Linked DNA regions of Homo sapiens: region 1 is linked to region 2. The links come from fine-mapping of genetic effects on gene expression. A gene starts in region 2. The other region holds a variant in brackets. All regions are shown on one strand. Distances are between the middles of the regions.

Region 1 (8,740 bases), 82 kb after region 2:
ACTGGGGGCCATCTTAGAAGGCTGCTTACCACAACTGCCAACCTGGTGTTTTTATTTGAGGCGCCAGAAGTAGAGGTGCAGTCATACAGAAGGCAGATCATCTCTTTGAACAAGCCCCCATCCCGTAGCTATTACGGGTTATTTTTCCAGAAGCTCAGTGACCAGGATACATAGTGAGAAGTAAAAAATATAAAATATTGTTACAGGAAGGGATTTGGCAGAAAGAGTCAGAAATGTGAAAGCCCTAAGGAAGAGAAAGGATGTCAAGAAACATGAAAAAGGGAAGAATGAGGGAATTGTCAGCAAGGGCCATTCTCTACATGCAGGTGTAGAGAAAACAAGGGGGTGATTGAGAGGAGTCAACAGCCTCATGGTAATAATAAAAATCTTCATCTCAGACGGGCACAGTGGCTCATATGTGTAATCCCGTGCTTTGGAAGGCTGAGACAGGAGGATCACCTGAGGCCCGGAGTTGGAGACCAGCCTAGGCAACATAGTGAGACAACCCTGTCTCTACAAAAAATAATAAAAAATTAGCTGGCTGTAGTGGCATGCACCTGTAGTTGCAGCTACTTGGGAGGCTGAGGCTGGAGGATTGCTTGAACTGAGGAGCTGGAGATTGCAGTGAGCTAAGAACATGCCACTACACTCCAGCCTGGGAGACAGAGCAAGACCCTGTCCCCTGTCTCTTTAAAGAATAAAAAAATGGGCCTGGCTCAGTGGCTCACGCCTGTAATCCCAGCACTTTGGGAGGCTGAGGCGGGCGGATCACAAGGTCAGGAGTTCGAGACCACCCTGGCCAATATGGTGAAACACCATCTCTACTAAAAATACAAAAATTAGCCGGGCATGGTGGCGGATGCCTGTAGTCCCAGCTACTCAGGAGGCTGAGGCAGGAGAATTGCATGAACCCAGGAGACGGAGGTTGCAGTGACCTGAGATTGCACCACTGCACTCCAGCCTAGGTGACAGAGCGAGACGCCGTCTCAAAAAAAAAAAAAAAAAAAAAAAAAAAAAGAATAAAAAAAAATCCCCCAAAACCCTAATTTCATCTGGCTTGACTCTCTTTGAAACTCTCAGGCTTCTAAGGAAGCCCCTCGTTTCTCCAACTCCTTTCTTACTTCCTTGGAAGAATCCTCTCTCCCTCTTCCCCACCTCTCTTCTGGCCTCACAGAGGCCTAGATGACCTGAGCTCACTCCCTCTTTCCTGTTTCCATTACCTGAGCCCTCCAGCCTCTGTCCCGAGATTTAGGGCTTCTCCTCTCACCTTCCAACAAGAAAAATTGTGTGGAAGAAATTAGACTCCAATGTTTGAGAGGAAAAAAAGGTGCAAATACGATCCTGAAGAGGCAGTCAGTCTTTGATACATTCTATCTAAGAGGGTCAGTAGTGTACTCATAGGAAACACGTTATCAATAAACTTTTACCCAGAGCAAAGTGACAGTGCACACACATTCATACTCTCTCCGATGGGGTTTATCCGAAGTATTCAAGACCACCCTAAGGATGATAAAACAGACAGAGACAAGCATGTCTGACTCCAAACAACACCCTTAAACTGGATGATGCAATCATTCCGGGAAACCCTCCCCCAGAGTGAGTGGAGGTTACCAATTCCTAGTTACCAATGAGTACTTCAAGTCCTGTTCTTCACAAGTCAAGGGTTAAAACAGACAAAATAGAATAGCTAAAATAGAATAGCTAAAATATCCTAAAACACAAAATGGACAAGTATAAAACCCTTACCAAGAAATAATATTGATAAAGTTTCTCATTTGGAGTGTTCTGTCCCACCAGGTTGGTAGTGGGAGTATATTTTAAAAATTAATCCACTGAAAGGAGGAATATGATTGACTCATTGAGGAGGGAGATTTCTAGAATTAACTTTCCCTTGTCTGTACCTAACCCAAAATTGGAACCCTTTAGTTATAGTTTGCATCTTAGTAAGAATATTAAGATTTCAAAAATTATTAAATATAAACTACAATCTTAACCTCCCCTCCCTCAGGCTTAAAAAAATGTAGCTACCTGGTTTTCTGAGATAATTATTTTTTGTCTGGAGGAAGAAATTGTTAAGAGTCCCTGTGCACAGGGCTGGGGTTGGGAGTGGGGATGAACTGTAAGTAAAAACAAGGGATCTTACTGGGGTGATGGAAATGGTCTAAAACTGTGGTGATGGCTGCACAACTTGGTAAATTTATTTTTTAAAAAATCATAGAATTGTACATTTGAAATGAGCAATTTTATGCTATATAAATTATGTCTTTATAAAGTTATTTTAAAAAGAGGCAGTGTGCAGATCTCTTAAAGCCACATCATGCACCTTTTAGTAAGGTATTACTCTTATTTCCTTCTAAATTCTTTCTTGTACTTTAACCCTTTTGGTATCAGATCTTTTTTTAAATCTTACAACCTCTAAAAAAGCTGGCCCCTTCTTTCAGTTTCCCTATGTGTTTCATTATTTTGGTTATTTTATACTTAAAAAAATACTTAGGAACTATAAGTAGAAGGCAAAATAAATAAAACTCAAGTTAATTTATTCTGCAGAGCTATATGTAAGAAAGTGAAAAACGTGCTTTCCTTCCTCCGTTCTTCTCTGTCCTTTCACGTGCCTACATGTATTTGCTTCCCGGTAAGTTTTTGGGACCCAGGTCTTCTGAGTCTAGATCTGTTGTTCATGCTCATGGACCATATCGGTAGAAATCAAGGGCCTTCCCTGCTGCATCCAGTCATCAGACAAGCCAGTTTTTCCAGTATCTCTTTACCCTTTTTACCCAATGAACTTAAGTATTTGGAATGGTTTACCCTTGTGTATATTACAGGTATCAGATTTAAGAGATTAAAAACTCTGCTTAGTTTTTTATTTTCCTTATAGCTCAAATCTAATCCAAGTGAAAATGAAGAAAAGGAAGCACAGTCTCAACTTATAAAATCTGATGAAATGCAGCGTTTGCGTTCACAAGCACTTAACGCTTTTGGAAGTGGAGATTATACTGCTGCTATAGCCTTCCTTGATAAGATTTTAGAGGTAAGTTTCTTAGATACTGCAGTTGACCAGCCTGACACTTATTGTAAGGCACATTTATATACTTCGACATGTCACATACCACAAAGACCTAGACAGGAGAAAATCAGGTTGGTCCTTGGGCTTTTGCCTCTTAAGTATAAAATAGTGTTCCTAGACAACAAAATTTGGACTGAAGTTTTCAGTAAATGTACTGAATGTGCTGTGGCATGAGAGTTAAATATGTTTATAAATTGCTTGCTTTGCTATTTTAGTTGATTTTGTATTTTTTTGGGAAGAAAACTCTAGCGGTTAGATAATGGGATAAAAGATGAAAAAGATGGTTGGAGTAAAAGGAAAAATGATGTTCGGGAGGAAAGAGGAATGTTTAGAGAAAAATTTCTAGAGAATAAGGCAGATAAAGAGTTGATAGTATGTGCCTGTAGTCCTAGTTACTTGGGAGCTGAGGCTGGAGGATCACTTGAGCCCAAGAATTTGTCGCTGCAGTGAGCTGTGATTGCTCCACTGTACCCCAGCCTGGGCGACAGAATGGGACCCTGCCTCTAAAAATATTAATAATTGGCTGGGTGTGGTGGCTCATGCCTGTAATCCCAGCACTTTGGGAGGTCGAGGTGGGTGGATCACTTGAGGCCAGGAGTTTGAGACTAGCCTGGCCAACATGGCAAAATCCTGTGTCTAAAAAAAAAAAAAAGAAAATTAGCTGGGTGTGGTGTGCATGCTTGTGATCCCAGCTACTCGGGAGGCTGAGGCGCTCGAACCTGAGAAGCAGAGGTTGCAGTGAGCCACTACACTGTAGCCTGGGCCACAGAGTGAGACTCCGTCT[CA/C]AAAAAAAAAAAAAAAGTTAATAATAATAATGGTTGATAGGATCCAGAGAGTTCTAGCTAGGGAAACCTGAGTCTAGGTTTCCTTGCCTCTGAAGGATTTAATGACAACTGATTTCCGAAGGAAGTCTACTGAAATATTCAAATGGAAGCAGTCGTAATTCACATTTATTTGTGATTTTCACAGTATTTTGATATACAGTTTCATTTAATTTTGGCTCTAAACTTATGATGTATGTAGAATGGGCAATTTGTTGATAATTTTACAGAAGATATTGTGATATGGTCCAGTAGAATTCATGTTTTACTGGGTTATTTTGTTTATGCTTTTTTAAGGAAATATAGTTTACATTTTTACATTCCCATAGACTATCCATTTTGAACTTAGTTCATTGTCCATGATATTTATGTATAATGTTGGTTTTGATATTTTTGTATATGTGAAAAGTCGATACGACTTTAGAGCAGCTCTAAGAAATATGCAAAGATACTTCCACCAGCCTTATTGATGAGCTCTTGGGTTTATGATTTGAAGAATACTATTGTGTTTCCTAAACCCTTATGGACTTTTTGATAAAATAGGAATGGTGAAGCCTCAACCTCCTGCCCTCTCACGGTATTTTTTCTTTCTTTCTTTCTTTTTCTTGATATGAGGATTTACTTTTAAGGCGGTGACATTTACAGAAGATAATTTCTTAAAAAAGGTTTTTGTTTAGAGACTGGGTCTCTCTCTGTTACCTAGACTGGAGTGCAGTGGTGCGATTGTAGCTCACTGTAACCTTGAACTCCTGGACTCAAGTGATCCTCCCATCTCAGCCTCCTGAGTAGCTGGGACCACTGGTGTGTTCCACCACACCCAGTTAATAATTTTAAACTTTTTATAGAGATGAGATCTTGCTTTGCTGCCTAAGCTGGTCTGGAATTACAGGCATGAGTCAATGTGCCCAGCTAAGAACATAATGTGGTTATTAGCAGAAAAAAGTATTTTGCCAATGTAGAACCTAGGTTTTATTTTTTTGACTACAAATTAGAATTGTTGATTAAGTATAAAAATCTGATAACAGAATATTCTCTTCAAATATGCTTCACTAGGAACAACCCTCCAATAGTAAATGCTATGTTTTCTTATTTTCAGTGTCTTAGAATTATATAATCGAAGGAGGTAAGAAAAGGGCCTTGTTATTATATATATCTCTTCCCCCATTAGAATTCATTTACAACATTTTTGGAGAAACTATTTTGTCACATCAGTTTTGTCACATTTAAATTGTATCAGATTTTAAAATAATATTTGCACTATATAAGTCATCACATCAATTGAGAATGTTTTATGTTGATAAATACGTAGATAAAAAATACGTGGAATGCAACAATGAATGTGCATAATTTATTCTTTCTTAAAGTCTAGTTCTTTTGTTCCTCAAGGTTTGTGTTTGGGATGCAGAACTACGGGAACTTCGAGCTGAATGTTTTATAAAAGAAGGAGAACCTAGGAAAGCTATAAGTGACTTAAAAGCTGCGTCAAAGTTGAAGAATGATAATACTGAAGCGTTTTATAAAATAAGCACACTGTACTACCAACTAGGAGACCACGAACTGTCCCTCAGGTCAGTTCTAGTGACACACATGTCTGATCTTTTTTAATTGTTGGCAGTAAGATTACCTCATCTTGTTTTAACATTTTAATATTAAATTAATAAGATGATGGTAGTTAAGGCTGTTTTTATATTGTATATCCATTTATATATTTTGTGTTATTCCCAAGTTACTTTAATTCCACATAGTTTGTTTTCATGAAGCTGCTTATTAAACAGGAAGGCTCTTATATTTATAGAAACAAAATGGAATGTTTACTATATAATGCTAGTAAGTCATTTTAATTTGAATTAACAAATGTATGCATGGTACAATGCCACGTATAAATGTATATAGTAAATTATAAGTCTCAGTATGGTTTTTGTTTAATCGTTGCAAACAAAAAATACTTTTATTGTGATTTCTGTGGAAAACTACTCATTGATTGTTTTGACATGGAGTATTTTCCTTTTTTAAATACATGAACAGTGAAGTTCGGGAATGTCTTAAACTTGACCAGGATCATAAAAGGTGTTTTGCACACTATAAACAAGTAAAGAAACTTAATAAGCTGATTGAGTCAGCTGAAGAGCTCATCAGAGATGGCAGGTGAGAATATGGTTGTTCCAACTGTCCAGCCATTCCTTATGTGCGGGGCTGTGGGCACAAGTGAACTACAGAACTGCTCTTTTACTTCTCAGCCATTGAGGGTGGGGTATTCTAGATAGCCCTGGGCCTTAGCAAAACTACCAGAATTGGACATTTTTGGAATAGGGAAGAATATAAATAATAGTAACTGTGTAGTATCCTTACCAGCAGAATTACTTGTACTATACCAAATATTTATTATCTCCTATATCAGGCTGAGCTATGTACTGAGGGTGCAGACTTAAACTTGACAATAGTTTTTGTTCTTAAGAAGTTTATAGCATTGCGTGGGAGACAAATATATGAATTGATTATTAAAAGACAATATGATACCAAAGTGATAGAATGTACATAGGATAATTGGAGTACCAAAGAGGAGTATTTACTCCAAACCAGGATGGTAAAGGCAAGGAGTAAAAGAGGAGCTTTTTTTTTTAGAGAAGGTGATAGATATTTAAATCCTAATCCTAAAGAATAAGTAAAAGTGGACAGAAGTAAGAGGCTGTGTCTGTGTGAGTGTTGTTTGTAGGGGGTTTATAGGCTGGGCAGGAGGACTGAAAAGAGTAGAGGGCACTGCAGACAAAACTGCCTAATAGAAAATAGGCTCCAATTCCTCTACTTTTAGTAGCTTTGTAAGTTGCCATCATGAGAATGCTTCACTCGGTTTCCCCCAACATCTTGCAGACTATAACGCCTTGCAAAACTATAGTACATTGTCACAATCAGGATATTGACGTGGGTGCAGTCAAGATACAGAATAATTCCATCCCAACAAGGACACCTCATGTTGCCCTTATAGCCACACCTACTTCCCTCTTGTTCCTATCCCTTCCTTAGCTTGTGGCAACCACTAATCTATTCACTTGTAGAATTCTGTCATTTTAAGAATGTTACATAAATAGAATCATACAATGTATAAACTTTTGGGATTGGCTTTTTTTTTTTTTGAGACAATCTCACTATGTTGCCCACCTGTTCACAGATACAGTCATAGTACACTCAAGTGATCCTTCTGCCTCAGCCTTCTGAGTAGCTGGGACTTCAGATGCATGCTACCACAGCTGGCAGGATGGGCTTTTTTCCCCCTCATTCGAATTGTCTGGAGATTTATCCATATTGTATCAATAATTCCTCCTTGTTTACTGTTGAGTAGTTTCCATGGTATGGATTTACTGCAGTTTGTTTAACCATTTATCCATTGAAGGACCTGAGGTTGGGAGTTTGAGACCAGCCTGACCAACACGGAGAAACCCTGTCTCTACTAAAAATACAAAATTAGCCGGGCGTGGTGGCGCATGCCTGTAATCCCAGCTACTGCGGAGGCTGAGGTGGGAGAATCGCTTGAACCCGGGAAGTTGAGGTTGCGGTGAGCCGAGATTGTGCCATTACACTCCAGCCTGGGCAACAAGAGCGAAACTCCGTCTCTAAAAAAAATGTTTTCTGTTTGCAAGTCTGTCCTTTTCAGGTCCTCTGGCTAGACAGAGCAGACTTCTGCAGGTTTTTGTTATTGTCGTTCTGTACCTGTTGGCGTTTCTGCATTGCTGGAATCTTCAGCTCCAAGTCTGGGATATATGAAACAAAAAAAAAGAACCCAGGGAACGTCTTACCATGTTTTCCTCAGGTCCTGAGTCACTAGCTAGTCTGTCTCTTTTCCTCCTTTGAAAGTTTTCTATTTTAAAAAATATACATATAATCTCTAGGGTTTTTTAGTTGTGCTTAGCTGGAGCACTTGGGACAAATACATCTATTCCACTTTCCCAGAAGCTGGCTTTTTTGTTTTCTTCTTTAAGTTCCAGGATGTATGTGCAGAATGTGGAGGTTTGTTACATAGGTAAACGTGTGCCATGGTGGTTTGCTGCACCTATCAACCCATTACTTAGGTATTAAGCCCCACATGCATTAGCTATTTGTCCTGATGCTCTCCCTCCCCTTGCTGCCTGCCCCACACAGGCCTCCGTGTGTGATGTTCCCCTCCCTGTGTCCATGTGTTCTCATTGTTCAGCTCCCACTTATGAGTGAGAATATGCAGTGCTTTGTTTTCTGTTCCTGCGTTAGTTTGCTGAGGATGATAGAGAAGCTGGCTTTTATTTTAAATGTTTTAGTTAAGCCTGTGTTTTAATACATTGGCATATTTACATATGAAGATTGTAGCACTTTGGGAATAGTGTGCCACCATGGCATAGAAACATATTTTTTACTTTACTATTGTTGAGGGAAATAACTGAGTATATAACAGGATTAGTACTTTTTACTGGTTTAAAGAAAATGCTGAAATAGCTTTTATTCTTAGAAAGCTTATACAGTTGGGAATTTAATCAGGTACCTTTTGTGTGAACTACGTTGTACTTTGTTGTAAATACTGACATTAATTATATAAAATGGCACGTAATGGGTTCCATTATTTTCATGGAAGTGTTTACTGACCAAGAAATAAAACTTGATCTCTGTATTGTTCAAGGTGCTCAGTGTAAGTCAGACTTCAACAGGGTGTTTTACTCAGGTTTGGAATTCTGAGCAATGTTTCTGTAAGGAAATTCTTCTGGTTTGATTGGTACTTATACTCACAGGTATGCTTTGTTCTGTCCATCTGCATCTCCTATGGTCATATGTTTTTATTTCCTAACTCTTAATTATGGAGTGTACCTTCTATGGGACTCTAGATTAATAAGGG
Region 2 (8,740 bases):
GGTGGAGGCTTCTATTTGGCTATCTTGCTCTGTCTTCCTCATGTTATTTTCAAAATCCATTTTGATTATGTCGTTTAATTATTGTGTTTATAACATTTATATTTAATGCAATTGTGTTTATATGTTTGGATTTAGATGTGAGAATCTGGAAAATAATAAGTTCTTATATTTGTGTTATTACAAAAATTTTATAAGATCAAACCTATTTAAAGACATGTCATTATGTCACTTAATTTAGAAATTAGAAAGCTTAAATTTTGAAGAGTTTACCCATTGTATATAAAATATAATATTGTACTTAGTTAATTTCTTATAAAATCAGAAGATATATAGCTGCCTTTAAATTAGTATTAACACATTCCAGTGATCAAAGATTCATCTATTTATCGGAAACAGTACATGAATCTTTTAAAATACAATTTTTACACTTTGTAGTCCAGAATTGTAATGTTAAAGACTCTTTAAATCACACTTCAAAACTTTTAGCTCATAATTATAATAACACAACCTATTATTTAAATGCACTCACTCACATTTTAAAAATAAAAAATACAGTGAACAGCATTTTTCTTTTAGATATTTTACTAGATTGTTTGGACTAGAATATAACTAGAATGTGTATGTAGCAATAGACATTTTAAAAACTCAAATAACCTACAATTTTCAAACTGAGAGAAAAAGAAGAACATCAAAAAGAGGAGAAAAGAGCTGGCTTAGGCAACTGTTATCTCTGTAAAGGGCTAATTCTCTTTCTTCTGCAAGGAAAGGAGATAAAATTCGATGCAGAAAAACTCATCTGTACACAAATACACAAAAGAGAGTCACTGCAGTTGATTTAAAAATACTCAGGCCCTTCACAATATTTTAAATAAACTTCTATTGCTGAAACAACTTTCAAGTAAGGGCATAAGGATAATACAGGGAGGTCCCAAATACCCCTTATTTTTCTGTATTGTTAGCATCTTGCATAACCATGGTACATTTGTCAAAACTAAGAAAGTAATAATGGTACACTACTATTAAACTTGAGACTATTCATATTTCAGTAGTTTTTCCACTAATGTCTATTTTCTCTAGGATCCAGTTCAACACAGCACACTGCATTCAGTCATCAATTAAGTTTCCTTAGTTTCCTCTGGTCTGTTACAGTATTTCAATCTTTCCTTGTTCCCCACGACGTTGATAGTTTTGAGGAATACTGATCAGGTGTTTTATAGAATGTCCTTCAATTTTAGTTTGATTTTTTTTTTTTCATGTTTAGACTAGATTGGGTTATAGGTTTTGAGAATACCACAGAGGTGAATTGCCCTTCTCATCACAGTATATTGGGAGTATATGCTATCAACATGACTTGATGATATTAACTTTGACCACCTGGCCAAGACAGTGTTTCCAGGTTTCTGTACTATGAAGTTACTCTCCTCCTCCCTTTCCATACTCTGTTCTTTGGAAGTTAGTCACTAAGTCCAGCCCACACTCAAGGAAGGAGGGAAAATAAGCTCCACCTGATGAAGGGGGACGTATTGTGTTAAGCTGAATAACGGTCCCCCAAATATGTTTACATTCTAATCTCCTGTCATTGTTCTATAGCAAAAGGCAGTTTTTGCAGATGTGATTAAATTGAGGAACTTGAGTAGGAAGAATATCCTGGATTATCTCAGCAGGCCCAATATAATTAATTACAAGGATCCTTGTAAGACGGAGGCAAGGTCAAAAATGACAGAAGGTGATGTGAATACAAAAGCGGAGATTATAGTCATGCGGCCAGAAGCCAAAAAACAACATAAAAGAGGGTGGAAAGCAGAGAAGACAAGATGTGATATAAAAGCCAAATTTTATATGAAGGTACCAAAATTTGATCAGAATCCCAAAATCCTTGAAAATAAACTGTAAATTTGACATATAAGGGTCATTTTTTGTTCCTCAGATTGGCAAAAACTGAAAATCAATTATATCTAGTGATGGTGACTAGGCAGGAATATAAACAGCTGATAGGAATAGAAATTATTCCTTTAGGGAAAGATAATCTGACAACGCATCTTAAAAGTTTAAACAAATTCTTTGATTAAGCAAGTTCAAAAACCTAGTTTTTTTTTTTTTTTTTTTTATAAAGTGTCACTCTGTTGCTCAGTCTGGAGTGCAGTGACATGATCTTAGCTCACTGCAACCTCAAACTCCTGGGTTGAAGCAATCCTCTGCCTCAGTCTCCCTGAGTAGCTAGGGCAACAGGCACGAGCCACCGCACCTGGCTAGTTTTAAATTTTTTTGCAGAGACAGGATCCTGCTATGTTGCTCAGGCTGGTCGCAAACTCCCGGCCTCAAATAATCCTCCCATCTTGGCTTCCCAAAGCGCTAGCATTACAGGTGTGAGCCACTGCGCCCAGCCTAGAAATGTTTCCTAGAAATAAAAGCACAAGTTTGTAAACATAAATGTGGAAGGATGTATATGGTGGCATTAACTTAATGCTGACTTTTTTGTTCTTAATTTGGCACAAAAAGGTGTTTATAAGTGCTCTACTTGTTTCTGAACATTTATTTCTCCTCATAGTTAATTCCTAAACAAATCTTATTCCCTTTACCTACAAAATATGTTCTAGATCTGTTCACTCCTCTCTACCAACATTGTTTTTCCTAGTCAATAAACATAGATCAACCTAATAAAAATTGCATAATACTCTTAATTTTGGATATATCATAAATATGCTACCATTGTTTTTTAAGTCTTTTGCTACTATAATTAACAGTATGAATTACAGTGGAGATTTAATGTTTAACTTCAAAAAGACTCCATAGAGTCTGACGAATGCAAACATATTTACAGTAACTTTTCTTACACTCACTAGATTACTTTGATTTTCGGTTTTATTGGCAAGAGTGATTCGTGAAAACCATGACTAGATGAACATTGGAGGAAACATTCCCAAGCATTAATCACTTAATTTTAGTTTTGTACATTTTTTTCTGTCTAATGTTACCTTTGTTGTAAAATTATCTTTTTTTAAGGAATGCTTTGTAAAGCTTAGTTCTAATATTACAGAATTCATAGTTATGTAATTAATCTCAAAATCACTCACCATTGAAGACCCTTGCTATTTTTATTTCCTATAACACGAAGTCTATTATCTCCTTAATAATTTTTAATTTCCATCCTTAGAACTTCTTCAGCTCTGCTACTTTTTCCTTAAGGCCAGGGTCATAGGCAGCACACTGGTGATAACTCACTGTCTAGAAATATTGCATTTTGTTTACAAAGTTATTTTCTATGTTCAGCATTTTGCTGGCTGCCTTGGGTACAGTACCTCAATTGAATGTCTACACCTGCATATTTGTGGACATTGAAATCATCTACCATTTTTCAGAGACACTACCTTGTGATATAAAAAAACAGAAGCCAAAAAAAAAAAAATCCCAAGGAATTTCTGAAGGAGCCTCTCTTCACTACTCTGCTCTTGTTAGAATAATGAGTAACACTGGTATAACATTCTACAATTTACAAGAATATTTATCTGCTTCATGAAACCTCAAAACAAACCTTTGAGACTATCAGGATCCTAACCACTTTACAGATGAAGATAACTTACATAATAGTTATGGGGTTTCCTGGATCTGACTCCTTTATTCTTCACATTACATTATGTTGCCTTCCCCACAACTAATCAAGGACTCCGTTTTTTCTTTTTTCTTTCTCGAAACCATTTCCTCCATATTAGTTCCCTTTGGAATAGAAGCCTTTTTAAAAGTCCACCTTAGTATATCTTCAGGGAATCACAAATTCACTATGCTATTTATAATTCATGAGTTTCTCTAATGGTATCAAGGCAGCAAATACAGGTGAAGTAATAATTATCCACCTGATAGTACTTAACACACATACCCCGTGTAAAAATACTGCTGGTGTACAGTGTGTGTGTTGGTGACGCCGGAGGAAGTGGCCGTGAACAGGCTTAATGCCGCATTGAGTAACTTCAACCTCATCTTGCTCAGGTTCATATCTCTCCTGAATTTCCCCTGGTAAGCGCAAGATTCAGGATCCGTTCTCACAGTTTTTTGTTTACCAGTTGATGTTGGCTGCATTCAGGAACGCCTTGCTCTCTTAAGCCACAGTGCCTTCCTGGTCTCTTCTTCACAGGGTCTTCCACAATCGCTCTTTTTCCTGGGCACGGTGGTTTGCTGAAAGTCGGGGTGGGGGGCGGGGCGTTCCCAAGTTTCCAGGCCAATTACCTACCTGCCTTAGAGCAATTACGCACTTCTCTCTGGTAGTCCCTGAAATGTTCTAATCATCAGATCGCCCCAGCTTCTCCTGACCGTTTCTTGCTTACGGCTCAGTTCAGACAGTATTTGTTCCGGGACGCTCAGCGGGAGGCGGTTTTTACCGGCTCACTCGAGACCCCAATTCCAGGCGCCCTGCAGCTTCCCTCAGACTCCCCGGGACCGTGTTTGGCCTTCCCATTCGTACGCTGCGGCTGCGCTTTCCTCTCGTAACACCACGCTGGCGAACCTGGAAAGGATCAAATAGTCCCACTCGCCAACCTAGCGCGGCGGGACCGGCCCAAAAGGGCCTTTGCAGCCTGCGCATGCGGACTCGGCGGCCGCCACCGACTCCCCGTCTGCTTCCCTCCGGGCGGCAGCCGCGGTTTGGAGCTTGCTGACAGCTCTGCGACCGGCGGGCGCAGCCTCGTCTCGTGCTTCCACGTTATCCTATCAGGGACGGGGCGGGGCGGCGGCCTCCGCAGCCTATCAGCGCGAACCACGACCCCGGCGAGCCCGGGAGGAAAGCCGCCAGAAAGAAGGCGATTGGATGGCGGCGGCGCTCTGGGGCGTAGCGTCGCCCGGGCCCCGCCCACCGCTGCCTTCCTCTGCTGGGCTCCAGAGCCACTGAGGCCTGAGCGAGAGCCGACGGCGGGCGGGCGCAGCTGCTGCCGGAGCGCCGGCGCGTGCTGGTGGGCCACACACCTTTCCTCCTCTTCACTCGCGAGCCCTCGGACATGGTGGCCCCCGGCTCCGTGACCAGCCGGCTGGGCTCGGTATTCCCCTTCCTGCTAGTCCTGGTGGATCTGCAGTACGAAGGTGAGTCCTGCCCTGCCCCGGCCAGGAAGTGGGCTCCCGGACCAGGCCCCCCGCGCTTTCCCGTCTGCGCCCGGGCGCCTGTCCCGGAGCGGCTCGGGAGGTGGGGCGAGCGCTGGGGGAGCCCGCGGCCTGGCTTGGGCCTGAGCCCGCGCCCGGTTCCGGGTTTGTCTGGGGAAGAATCGAGGGGACTGGCGGGCCGCGGGGCCGGGACAGCGGGTTTGGACTAAGGAACCGGGCCGCAGGAGTCGGAGGAGGCGGGGTGCGGGGGCACCGGGCTACGACTTCAGGAAGTCCTGGGACGCGGAGACTTGGGCAGCCTTTGGGTCCTGGCCTCGCTTGGGACCCTCGCTGGGCGCCTGGGGACACTGTCAGTCATTGGTGCTGGCTGGGAGGAGGCACTAAGGTGGCCAAAAGACTTCCTTCGCTCTGGAGTTCTTGGGTGGGGAAGGAGTGTCATGTCCGGCTGGGAGTTGGAGGGGACAGTGTTGACTATTTAAAAAGTGTGTAACCATCCCCATTAAGATGCACTGTCGTGTAGAGAAATTGTTAGTTTGGTGCAATGAGGAGCCGCTGTTGGAATTCCATCTCCCGGACGGCCAGGCACTGAGTTTGTGGTTTTACAACTCCCAACATGGTGTCATTCAACGTATGGCTGGCATTACTTTTCCAAGTTCGCTGTAAAAAGGTTCCCTTAAAAAGATACGAACGATTAAATTTCACTTCAGTCCTGCAGACTGGAATGTTGGCTACTCCAGAATAGCGAAAATAGAGGGCTGTCCTATCTTAGATGGCAGCGGGGAGGAGTAAGAATTAAAGTTGATAGTGCCGATTTAACGAATGCTTCTGGCGCGGTTACTGTGCGAAATATTCGAGTGTAATGACACATCACATGCACTGATCTATTTTCATCCCCATAAAAAGGGCTAGTTGTCAAGGAGGTCAAATTAAACCTTTGAGTATTCCATTCAAAGGGAGCGAGGAACTAAAAATTGGGAATTGTTTATAGTGAATTCTTCTGAAAGTTCTCAACTTTTTTTTTTAAAGTAGTACTCCCCAGTTTTTAGGTGTCACCCATAGCAATGGGCTTTTGCTTTTGCTTCCCCTGGTAACCATATTTTTTGAACCCCAAATCAGAACACGTAGTGTGGCAACATTGGGACAAAGAATTTGACAGTGAGGCTGCCCCCAGAAAAATCTAGGGGATTGGAATTTGAAGGTCTGTACCACTTTAATATGGGTCATATATTCTAGTTCTTTTGCATTTTCAAAAGCTTCATTCCTCCTGCCCCCGCACCCCACCATCCCTCATCTGTAGTATTTATCTCCAGTTATCATTAATAATTTATTTTGGACACTTAAGAGAAAGTTGCCTATGTTCTGTTTAATGGTGATTTTTTTTTTTAAGTTACAGAGATGCACAATTTTGAATGATTGCTTTTCCCACTACTTTTTAGAATTGCTGTTCTGTATATGAGTCTGTAAGGACTCTTAACTCTTCATTTCCCTCCTGTGGTATTTTCCATAAGAAAACCACATTTGAGAGCTTTTCTGTGTAGGAGGCACTGGTGACATTTCTCAGAGGAGTGCCAGAGTGTCTTCTTTAGGACCATTGTCTGTGTAAAATAGCAGGGACTTAGTACAGGTAACAGAAAAAGGAAAGAAAGGAGCCTTTCTGTAAGCCATATCTTATTCACGAAAGCGTGTGGTATTCATTCCTACTTTACAGACCAGGGAACTGAGGCTCCAAAGGTTTTACTAAAGTTCATTTTGTGTGCACGCTGGAGACAGAAGTTAAGTAGTTGACAACATCATGTGAGTCCAAGCACTTTTAAGTGATGGCAGCTGAGAAAAAAAATCAGCACTTTTTTTTTTTTTTTTTTTTTGTAATTAACAAGAAGGTTATTTCCTGGGAGGTTTAATACAGTGGTTCTCAAACTTGAGTGTGCATCAGAATCGCACATGGAGGGCTTTTTAAAACAGAGTGCTGTACCCCACTTACAGAGTTTGATTCATTAGGTCTTGATGGGACCTGAAATTTTGCGTTTCTAGAAAGACCCTGGATGACCACACTTGAGAACCACTGGTGTAATAAATTATATAGAGGAGTTAAATTAGGTGTCTGCTATGTATTTGACACTGGATTTGGTGATAGGGATATAAAGGTAAGAACTCTGACTTGAATTAGCAAACCGTTAGCCCCTGTTTTCCCAAATAAATTGTGTCTGGATTCACTAATCTCATAGTTCTCTGAAAGGCAAATGGTGCTACTGCTAGGCCTGAGGCTTAATAAAATTGTGTTGTATTAAGGATTTTTGTTAAATAGGTAGGTTTTAGCTGCTCTTGTCACACAAAAAGTAATTATGTGAGATGATAGATATATTAATCTGCTTCACTCTTATTAATCTGCTTCACTATTGTAACCATTTTATGTGTGTATATCTCATAATACTATGTTGTAAACATCAAATATATACAATACAATTCACTTTTAAAAAAAGAAATGAAGGAGAATGGTTATGAGAGAAGTGAATGTGGAACTAAGAGTGGCACAGGATGGGGAAGAGATAACCTAGTGTTTTTCTGATTTTGAAATATTTGCCTTTGTTTTCTTCTAGATTTTTCTGTTAATTGTCATCCAGAGACAGAAAGTATATATCATGAATTGAAAGTTTGAGTCTTTTGGCACCCTCCCTTCTCAAAGGCGTTTGAAAGAGTGAAGTCTAAAGCACTAGATGAGATCGAATTTTTGGAATAGAAAGAAAACTTTAGTAGTATCTGCTTTAGTATTCTCATGTTACAGATAAGGAAGTTATTTCATTTCTTTGCTAATGGTTTGTCCTCTTGGTGACTTGAGTAGCAACACAGCCTGGGAACGAAACCTTTTTTCTCTTATCATAGTTTTATCTCTTTTTCTTCCTTAACATGCTATCTGGACCCAATTTTTCTTTATTTCATTGAGCTGATTAAACCATATATTTTGGCCATGGGGAAAAGAATAGTTGAAAATATATAGTTGAAAATCTATACGTATAAAATATTGTGATAAGTTTTATTTGAACCATGATAAGTTTTATTTGAACCTAACCTATTAAAGGTATGTTTTGTCTTTTCTAGGATTTTCTTGACATTATCTAAATAGGGAAAGAATAAAGTAGCAAAAATGAGTGACTTTAAGTAATTTAAATAAATTAAGTATCATAAAAGGTGGTCACATATTTTCTAGAATTATTTTAAATTCTTTAATAAGATAGGCTGTAGTTAGCAGTAGTATCAAAGTTCCAGTTCTCTTGACATAGTTAGTATTTGCTGAGAAACTGCCTGGAAATGCAGTGGTTTTCATTCTGTGAGGTAGGGGAAGTTGTTCTGGGAGGGGATGCACTGTAGTAATTAGGTTTTATTTTCCCATATGAAGTTAATTAATTGTTGTTAAGTTTAATTTCTACTGCTGTGGTCTCTTTTGATTAGTGTCCTGCAGTTAATCTTTGTTTATATGGAAGTATCATGGGAACCCATTCACCTGCTCTTCAGAACGCAAACATTTCAACCATAGATTTATTTTTCTTTCCATATCTTTAGAAAGCTACTTAAAAAAATTAAATCTGATGAGTTTGTATCATTTGGAGTTCTGGAATATGGAGAAGACTCATTTAATCAGTCAGCAAAGGCTTTTACT

What was found. PIP is the estimated chance that this variant, and not a neighbour inherited with it, causes the effect.
Region 1: its variant is fine-mapped to the expression of DNAJC3 in whole blood (INTERVAL, PIP above 0.99).

Annotation. Positions count from the first base shown.
Region 1 is chr13:95,754,769-95,763,508 of GRCh38, forward strand. It overlaps DNAJC3 (DnaJ heat shock protein family (Hsp40) member C3), which reads left to right. Exons shown (of 12, transcript NM_006260.5): 5 at 2,876-3,028; 6 at 5,272-5,453; 7 at 5,911-6,030. Among named protein-coding and RNA genes, the nearest start is that of DNAJC3, 82 kb to the left of the region's middle. The variant CA/C (reference allele first, on the strand shown) is at 3,849.
Region 2 is chr13:95,672,271-95,681,010 of GRCh38, forward strand. It overlaps DNAJC3 (DnaJ heat shock protein family (Hsp40) member C3), which reads left to right and starts at 4,869. Exons shown (of 12, transcript NM_006260.5): 1 at 4,869-5,067. The coding sequence starts at 4,986. DNAJC3-DT (DNAJC3 divergent transcript) reads right to left here and starts at 4,655. Exons shown (of 2, transcript NR_132117.1): 1 at 3,582-4,655; 2 at 565-2,398. RefSeq lists enhancers at 3,959-4,806, 4,070-4,169, 4,807-5,653, 5,000-5,049 and silencers at 4,690-4,929, 5,160-5,249.